Homo sapiens: one gene and its partner. The protein of the gene in region 2 purifies or fractionates together with the protein of the main gene of each other region. This does not show direct contact. Each region holds a gene or a part of one and is shown on either strand. Other genes may lie near its edges.

What was found.
Region 1: the proteins of PEG10 (region 2) and IQCB1 purify together in Homo sapiens (affinity purification with mass spectrometry; 3 studies listed by BioGRID and IntAct, with this or other methods). This does not show direct contact.

The regions. Positions count from the first base shown.
Region 1 is NC_000003.12:121,828,350-121,832,268, forward strand, and holds part of IQCB1 (IQ calmodulin-binding motif-containing protein 1), read right to left. Parts: intron 624-3,919; 5' UTR 612-623; coding exon 512-611; intron 284-511; coding exon 121-283; intron 1-120. UniProt on the Homo sapiens protein: Involved in ciliogenesis. The function in an early step in cilia formation depends on its association with CEP290/NPHP6.
Region 2 is NC_000007.14:94,654,403-94,658,321, forward strand, and holds the start of PEG10 (retrotransposon-derived protein PEG10), read left to right. Parts: upstream 1-1,967; 5' UTR 1,968-2,184; coding exon 2,185-2,189; intron 2,190-3,919. Other genes in the region: SGCE (epsilon-sarcoglycan isoform 5 precursor), read right to left, coding at 1,588-1,696.

The DNA of each region.
Region 1 (3,919 bases), on a different chromosome or scaffold from region 2:
CCAAAACCTACAACAGGAGGTTGCCAATGCTTGTTAGGCAGATAAATAAAAAGCAAATGTTGAAAATCAGAATCAACTACTACATCCCTCAAGAACAGCTGACTTACTGCTTTATTTTACCTTAATATCTGTGTAAGCTGGGAAATTGTAGTCCAACCACCCTGGATTCGAGAATAATCTTGACTGAGGACCAAGAGGCAATATTGAATGAGATCATAACAATATATATCTTGTTTGATTTTCTTCAACTCTGAGCTTCCTAAAGGTGTGATGTTTATTATTTCTAAGGCAAAAGGAAATAAGATATATTTATTTTTGCTTAATACATCCAGGAGCTATTTGTATTTTTATATGTTGAATAATCACTAAAAATATATTAGAAGGAAAAATTACTGTTCTATTATAGTGTTAAGACCTCTCTGAACAAATTTAAAAGAAATGTTAAAATTGTACCAACGATGGAACCATTTTTCACTTAAAATGCTATCTAATCACAAAAAGATTTTCTTACCTTTTAACTTCAACAGTATAACAGGGACATTCTGCTCAGGGCTTTTTGCAACTTCAGCAGCTATAGATAAGATCCTTGGGTCTGTACCTGTTGGCTTCATTTCTCTTATTACCTATATTTTAACAGAATCAGAGAATAAAGGTCAAAAAGCCAGGAAATGTTCACTACCTAAATAATGTTTGAAATATAATTTCAATATAAATAAAAACAGCTTTTCTTGCCTTGTTTGAGAGGCAGAATGTAGATTTTTTCATTTCTTCCTTATAGAAAACTGGTTTTTCTAACCAGTGTAAAAGAGCTCAAGATTCCTATACCTCACATGTAACAGCTATAGCAGGTATTGTTTATTGTGCACTCACTAAGAGTCAGGAACTGTGATAGGAGCTTCACATTCTCTCTCTAATCTGCACAATAATTCTAGGATAGGAATTAACTTCCTTTAATCACACAAGAAGAACTGCAAAAAAGAGCTAACATGACAGGCCTAAGACTACTATACTTTCAAAGGTGTGCTTACAAGGTTGGCCTTTGACTGGCATCTAGAACTTAGATTTCAGGAGGGTTTCTGCCATTCTCTGGTAAGAGTGGCTCCCTGTGCCTAAAACTGTTTATGAAAAACAATGTGGTTCATGCTGAATACCCGCCTTCCTTCCAGGAGTCTTAGAATTCTGGTACATGCCAGTCGAGAGTACCTATACAGAGGGTGCCTATGTGGCCATCCTCCAATAAAAATTCTGATCACTGAGTGTCTAGTTGAGCTTCCTTGGTAGACAACACTTCAAACATGTTGTCATAGCTGGTTGCTGGAGGAATTAAGCATATCCTACGTAACTCCACTGGGAGAGAACTCAGAAGTTTGTACCTGATTTCCCCCAATATGCTTTTTCCCTTTGCTGATTTTGCTTTATTTCCCTTCACTGTAATAAATCATAGCTGTAAGTACACTATATTCTGAGTCCTGTGAGCCCTCCTAGTGAAGCACTGACCTTCAACACACTAATGCTCAGAAATGTTACATAAATATAAGATAATCAAAGATTGCTTCTAAATAGTATAGTGAATAAGGCCAGGGGCAGTGGCTCACACCTATAATCCCAGCACTTTGGGAGGCCAAGGTGGGTGAATCACTTGCGGTCAGGAGTTCAAGACCAGCCTGGCCAACATGGTGAAACCCCATTTCTACTAAGAATACAAAAAATCAGCTGGGCATGGTGGCGCGTGCCTGTAATCCCAGTTACTCAGGAGGCTGAGGCAGAATAGCTTGAACCTAGGAGGTGGAGGTTGAGTGACCTGAGATCACATCACTGCACTCCAGCCTGAGTGACAGAGCTAGACTCTGTCTCAAAATAATAATAATAATAATTAATAAATAAGTAAATAGTATATTGAATAAAATCAATTCTCCTAACATTAAAAAACAAGGTCCACATCCTAATTTGTTGCTAAAACTTTCTCTATGTAAAAAAAGTTTAAGGCTGAAGAATCGCTTGAGAATTGGTGTTCAAGACTAGCCTGGTCAACAAAGCAAGACCCTGTCTCTAAAAAAAAAAAGTTTTAAAGCATTTGAAGCTCAAAGATATCCTTATATAATAAAAGCGTATTTCCTTATTTATAGTAAAGCTAACATGTATCAACTGTTTAATATAAGCTAAGCACTATGTTAATATACTATACACTGTCTTGTGTAATCCTCACAACAGGGCTATGAAGTAGATAGAGCGTGTGATCATTTCCATACATACATATATACATATACATATATATGTTTTTGTCCACAGTTTCTGGCTCATAACTCCCATAGCCTTTGTTACAGTCTTGTTATGTTAGGGTGCTTTAGGCCTCAGAAAACAGAATCTATTTCTGACTTCCTCCTCTCCTCCTTTCACCTGCTCCTTCTCTCCAAAGCAGAACTCTAATCATCCCTGCCTTTCTCTGACCTATCTTGTCTAGCTGTAGGTCATAAGACCCCTGTTTCAGAATGGGTCTTGCCCTATATCCTGGAAGGAATGCTGAACAGAGAAGCCAAGAAGAATCTGAGCAGACAGGCCTTGCTGGGTTTCCCCACTCAGTCTGTTAGTATCAGATCATATCTTTTTTGTCCAATCACATTTCCAAAATGATTGTCCATGCTTCAGTCATGCCTATCCATTGAAATCTCCATAAAAGGCTCAAGAGGATGGGGTACAAAGAGCTACTGGATAGCTGAACATGTGGAAGTTCCTGGAGGAATTTCCTGGATATCACAGGCAGGGAGGACATGGAAGCTCTGTGCCCCTTCCCATACTTCACAGTATGCATCTCTTCATTTGTATCCTAGTATTTTTTTTTGGAGACAGGATCTCACTCCTGTTGCCCAGGCTGGAGGACAATGGTACAATTATGGCTCACTGCAGCCTAGACTTCTCAGGTTCAGGTGATTCTCCCACCTCAGCCTCCCAAGTAGCTGGGACTACACTTGCAAGCCATGACGCTCGGCTAATTTTTTGTATTTTTAGTAGAGACAGGGTTTCTCCATGTTGCCCAGGGTCTCTGTAATATCTTTATAATAAACTGGAAAACATGTTTCCCTCAGTTTTGTTAGCTCCTCTAGCAAATTAATACACCCCAAGGTGTGTATTAATAGGATTCCTCATGTGTAGCTGGTCAGTCAGAAGCACAGGTAAAACAACTTAGGGCTTGGATTGGCATCAGAAATGGGGGTCCCTCTTGCAGGACTAAGCCCTAAACCTAAGGGATCTGACCCTATCTCCAAGTAGACAGTGTCAGAATTGAATTAGATGATACCCAGCTGGTGTCCGCTGCAGAATTGATTGCTTGCTTGTTGGTGGAAGAAAACTCCACACATTTGGTCACAGAAGTCTTTTGTGTTGATTGTCATGATGTGAGAGCAAAAACTGTTTTTCCATTCATATATCTCTTATTAGGTACAATATAAATCATTAAAAGACAGGTTTGCTGAAAATACCTTAAAGAAAGCCCAGTGCAACTCCCGGCACATAGTAGTCACAAAACTTTCAAAGAGAGTGCATATAGTTATCTCATTCTCTCCAAATGGCTGCATTATGCTACATTTCCTTTTAAGAATGCAGCAAAATATATTTAAACATCACCTCTACTGGAGGTCACTCAAGCTGTATGCTATTACAAGCAACACTGCAATGAATATACACATGATCCTTTACATTTTTGCCAATCTGTTAGATGAAAATTGGTATGATTGTGTTTTAATTTGTATTTCTTTGATTATTAGGGATGTCAGGCACATTTCGTGTTCACTGGCCATTATTTCTTTTATGTATTTTCTATTCATATCCCTTGACTATATTTCTATCGGTTTGTCTTATTCTTTTGCAGAAGCTTTTCATACATGGATAGGAATCTTTTCTCTTTTATATTGGCTGTAAAATT
Region 2 (3,919 bases):
TTAAACAAACAAACAAAACTGGTAAGAATTTGACAGCGGTCACCAGAACAGTACTCTACCAAGCATAAGAAATCCTGGAATTATTCTATCTTGCAGAAGAGGGTGAACATCCTAAAGATTAAATTAAAAGGCACTTCTAAAAAGTATAATTGTGTTTACCCAACTTCCTAGGGAAATGTCTTTGTTAAAAAGCTGCATTTCATTCATTCATATTCCGGATAGTGGGCATTTTCTAATAAAAAGTAAAATCTCAGTAAATGGGCTACAGTTTTGTTTATTCCTAGAAAGGCTCTCTTTTAAAGTGCGGTGTCTGCAACGTTGTTATGACAATAAGTCAAATTCTTATTGATATTCCAAGTATAAAATAATCCGTAGCAATGTTACTAAAATGTGCTCAATTTTGCTCTTCAAATATGAAAGCGTTTCATCTGTGTTTCAGAAACCTAACTCAGCTGTAGACAATTTGGTTTTCCCTTTTAACTTAAACTTGTTTTACTAAGATCATCAACAGATTGTCAGTTTCCCAAGCACCTGACACTGAGGCGCTTAGATGGGAATCCGCGTTAAGGTTTTATTTAGCATCCTTCCTCATCAGAATTTTAGCGTCTTATCAGCCACTGCAATTTTCCCTGACATAAAATATATATGTTCATAGTACAAATGCACGCAAATATTTGTGGCCGAATCTCGGCAACCCGCTGGAAAGGATTAAACGTGCGGTTGCCGTGACTAAACGCATTCATTCACCCTACAAGATTTAGGAAAATGTAACGTTGCAAGGGAAGCAAGGTCTCTGTGTAAACCTCGTAATCGCCACCAAAAGTCGGTAGCTGGGAGCCTTCAAAGCCCGCCAAACACACTGGAAGCATCCACAGCTGTTTTAAATTGGTTTTGGTTTCTGGAAATAGCGCACTCGGTACGGCAGCATCTCTGGCCTCCAGCCGGGGTTAACCCTGACCTGAACGCCCTGTTTAGCTCCCAGCATTTCATGATTCCGCTTCCCTGCTCCGTAAAACCGAAGAAAACCGAGATTTCCGTCACCGAGAAATGCACTTAGCAAGAGGGGGAAATTCGGTGTTTTAAATGTCACATTTTTGTGTTCTCTACCACTATCAAGAAAAGGAAAAAAGATGTGTTTGTGTAGCGGGGACGCAGCTTGACACCCATTTCCTTTGGCTCGCATCGCGGTCGCAGAGCCCAATCGCGGGGAAACGGGCCCCCCAGAAAAACAGGCAACGACCCCCAGCTCTTTGCTACAGGGATCGGGAGAGGACTACCCTGGGGCTGGGCGGGGAGGGGGATGTTGGGAACAGGAATTGGAGATGGAATTTCTGCGCCCGCAGAGCAGGGAGGGGCCCGCGGGGGCGCGGAGAGGAAAAAAAGGCCAGGGGTCAAGCCTGGGGAGAGAGAAGCTGGGCCGGGGAAATGGGGTACAGGGTGTACTGAAGGAGGGGTACGGTGGGGTCCGGGACAGAAAGAGAGGCTGGTGCCCAAAGGGCGCGCTCAGGCGCCCGGAACCCGAGCGGGGGAGGGGGAGGCGGCGGCCTGTTGGCCCCGGGACCTCCACGTCGCGCGCAGGCCACTAACCTGTCAGCAAGAATGTGCCAGTGGTCGCGGGGCTCATCCTGCGTGTCCCCCGACCCTGTCCCGTCCAAGCACAGGGGTCTCCCAGCTCCCACCACCGGGGCAATTGCATTCTTGGCCTGGCTAGGCCGTCCGTCCTCGATTCTCCCCTCCCCTCCCTTTCTTCTTCCCTCCCAGCTTGGCCAGTTCAGCATCAGCATCCCGCACCCCCTCGGTAATCCCGTACTCCCTCTAGCGGCGGGCCACTGCAGCGTGGCCACCGCCCCCACCCCCATCCCCCATCCCCGCACCCCCCTCCACCCCCTAGCCCGCGGAGCACGCTGGGATTTGGCGCCCCCCTCCTCGGTGCAACCTATATAAGGCTCACAGTCTGCGCTCCTGGTACACGCGCTTCAACTTCGGTTGGTGTGTGTCGAAGAAACCTGACTGCGCCCTGAGGAGAACAGCGGAGAAGGTCCACCGAGCCTGGCGAAAGGTCCGCTGAGCGGGCTGTCGTCCGGAGCCACTCCGGGCTGCGGAGCACCCAGTGGAGACCGCGCCTGGCTCAGGTGTGGGACCCCATCCTTCCTGTCTTCGCAGAGGAGTCCTCGCGTGGTGAGTATGCGGTGAGGACGTTTTTTTTTTAAAGATCACGTTCATTCCCCGTGCTTATCGGGAGCTGCGGGAGATGGAGTAGCACCCCAGAATGTCTCCACGCAAAACTTGTCACGCCTTCACTGGCTGTACCCCAAAACAAATGGGGAAACCAAGCCTTAAAGGCTTGGGTTTCCAGGACCAAGTCCAGATACGGGCTGTAGACAGAGATGAGCTGCGGACAGTGATGAGCTGCAGACGGTCAGGAGCTATAGATCGATTTGCAATTTGCTCTTCAAATGCGCTACCAAGTGCCATGCTTTACAAACAGATAAGCGCTTCAAATGCGCTACAAACTGGCGCTTCAGATGCGCTACAAGCACGCTTCACGCGGGCGACAAACTGATGGGAGCTACAACTGGCGCTTCATTGCGCTATAAACTGATGGGCGCTTTATGTGCCACAAACTGACGGATGGGCGCTTCAGTGGCGCTACAATCCAGAACGAGGAGCAGCGATATAGGAGCTGCAGACAGAAAACTGAATTGCGCTTTACATGCGCTGCAAAATCTGAGCTGCAGAAGAGTAGCACTACAAAAAACGCTACAAAAACGATGCGATTAGCCAGCCCGACAACAGCGCTTCATTGCGCTGCGAGGCACATGAACTGCAGAGGTACATGAGCTGCGGAACAATTCACACCTAAGATGCACTACAAAGTGGTAAGAGCTGCAGAGGTACAGGAGCTGCAGACCGTTTGCGCTACAAATAAAGCAGCCGTAGTGGGACATGAGCTGCGGAGTACAATTCCTCTGTTTTCTTGGAGCAGGACCCCACCCTTTCACCTTTTGGAATGGCTCCCACTCTATTTTTCTGCAGGACGGTTCTCGCATGATGGTGCTGGTAGACAAAATGGAGCCCCGGGCAAAAATTAGTGTTTAACATTCTGCCCACACCATTCCCGCTATAGCAGTGGAGTGGAGGGGCACTGATTGGAGTGGAAATGGGAATCTTTTGGTGATGGCAGAGCAGGCTGCCTGCCTACTTGTGCTTGATTGAAGTGGCGGTGTAGTTGTGGTGGCGCGAATCAGCGTCCAGCAACAGTTTGTGGAAACTGTGGGTTTGCTGAGTATGGCGGGGGAATTGGATCTGTGGATTGCTCTTGCTGCATGAAATGAATCTGGCTTTGGTGACTGGTGGGAGGGGTTTGGGAGGGGGGATTCTGGCGGCGGGGGGGGGGGGTGTGCAGATACTCTGCAGCCCTGTAGCAGCCAGTCTCAGGCCTGCCCCGCCCATCCTAGTGTGCCTTCTCTGCGGTGCTTAGCGCCTCCTCCTACAGCGCCTCCTCAGAGCGCGCCTCCCCTGCAGCGCGCCTTCCCAGAGCGCGCCTTCTAGATGCGGCCTCCTCAGGCCCCTCCTCCCAGCTCCTTAGCGCCTGCCTGCCCAGGCCCCACCTCTCTCTGGCCACCTCATTCTGAGGTGAGCTGCTCAGGCCCCGCCTCTTCCAGGCCCGCCTTTTCTGTGGTGAGCTGCCCAGGCCCTGCCTCTCCCGGGCCCACCTACTCTGAGGTGAACTGTCCAGGCCCCGCCTCTCCCGGGGCCGCCCCCTCTGAGGTGAACTGCCCAGGCCCCACCTCTCCTGGGCCCGCCTCCTCTGAGGTGAACTGCCCAGGCCCCGCCTCTCCTGGGCCCGCCTCCTCTGAGGTGAACTGCCCAGACCCCACCTCTCCTGGGCCCGCCTCCTCTGAGGTGAACTGCCCAG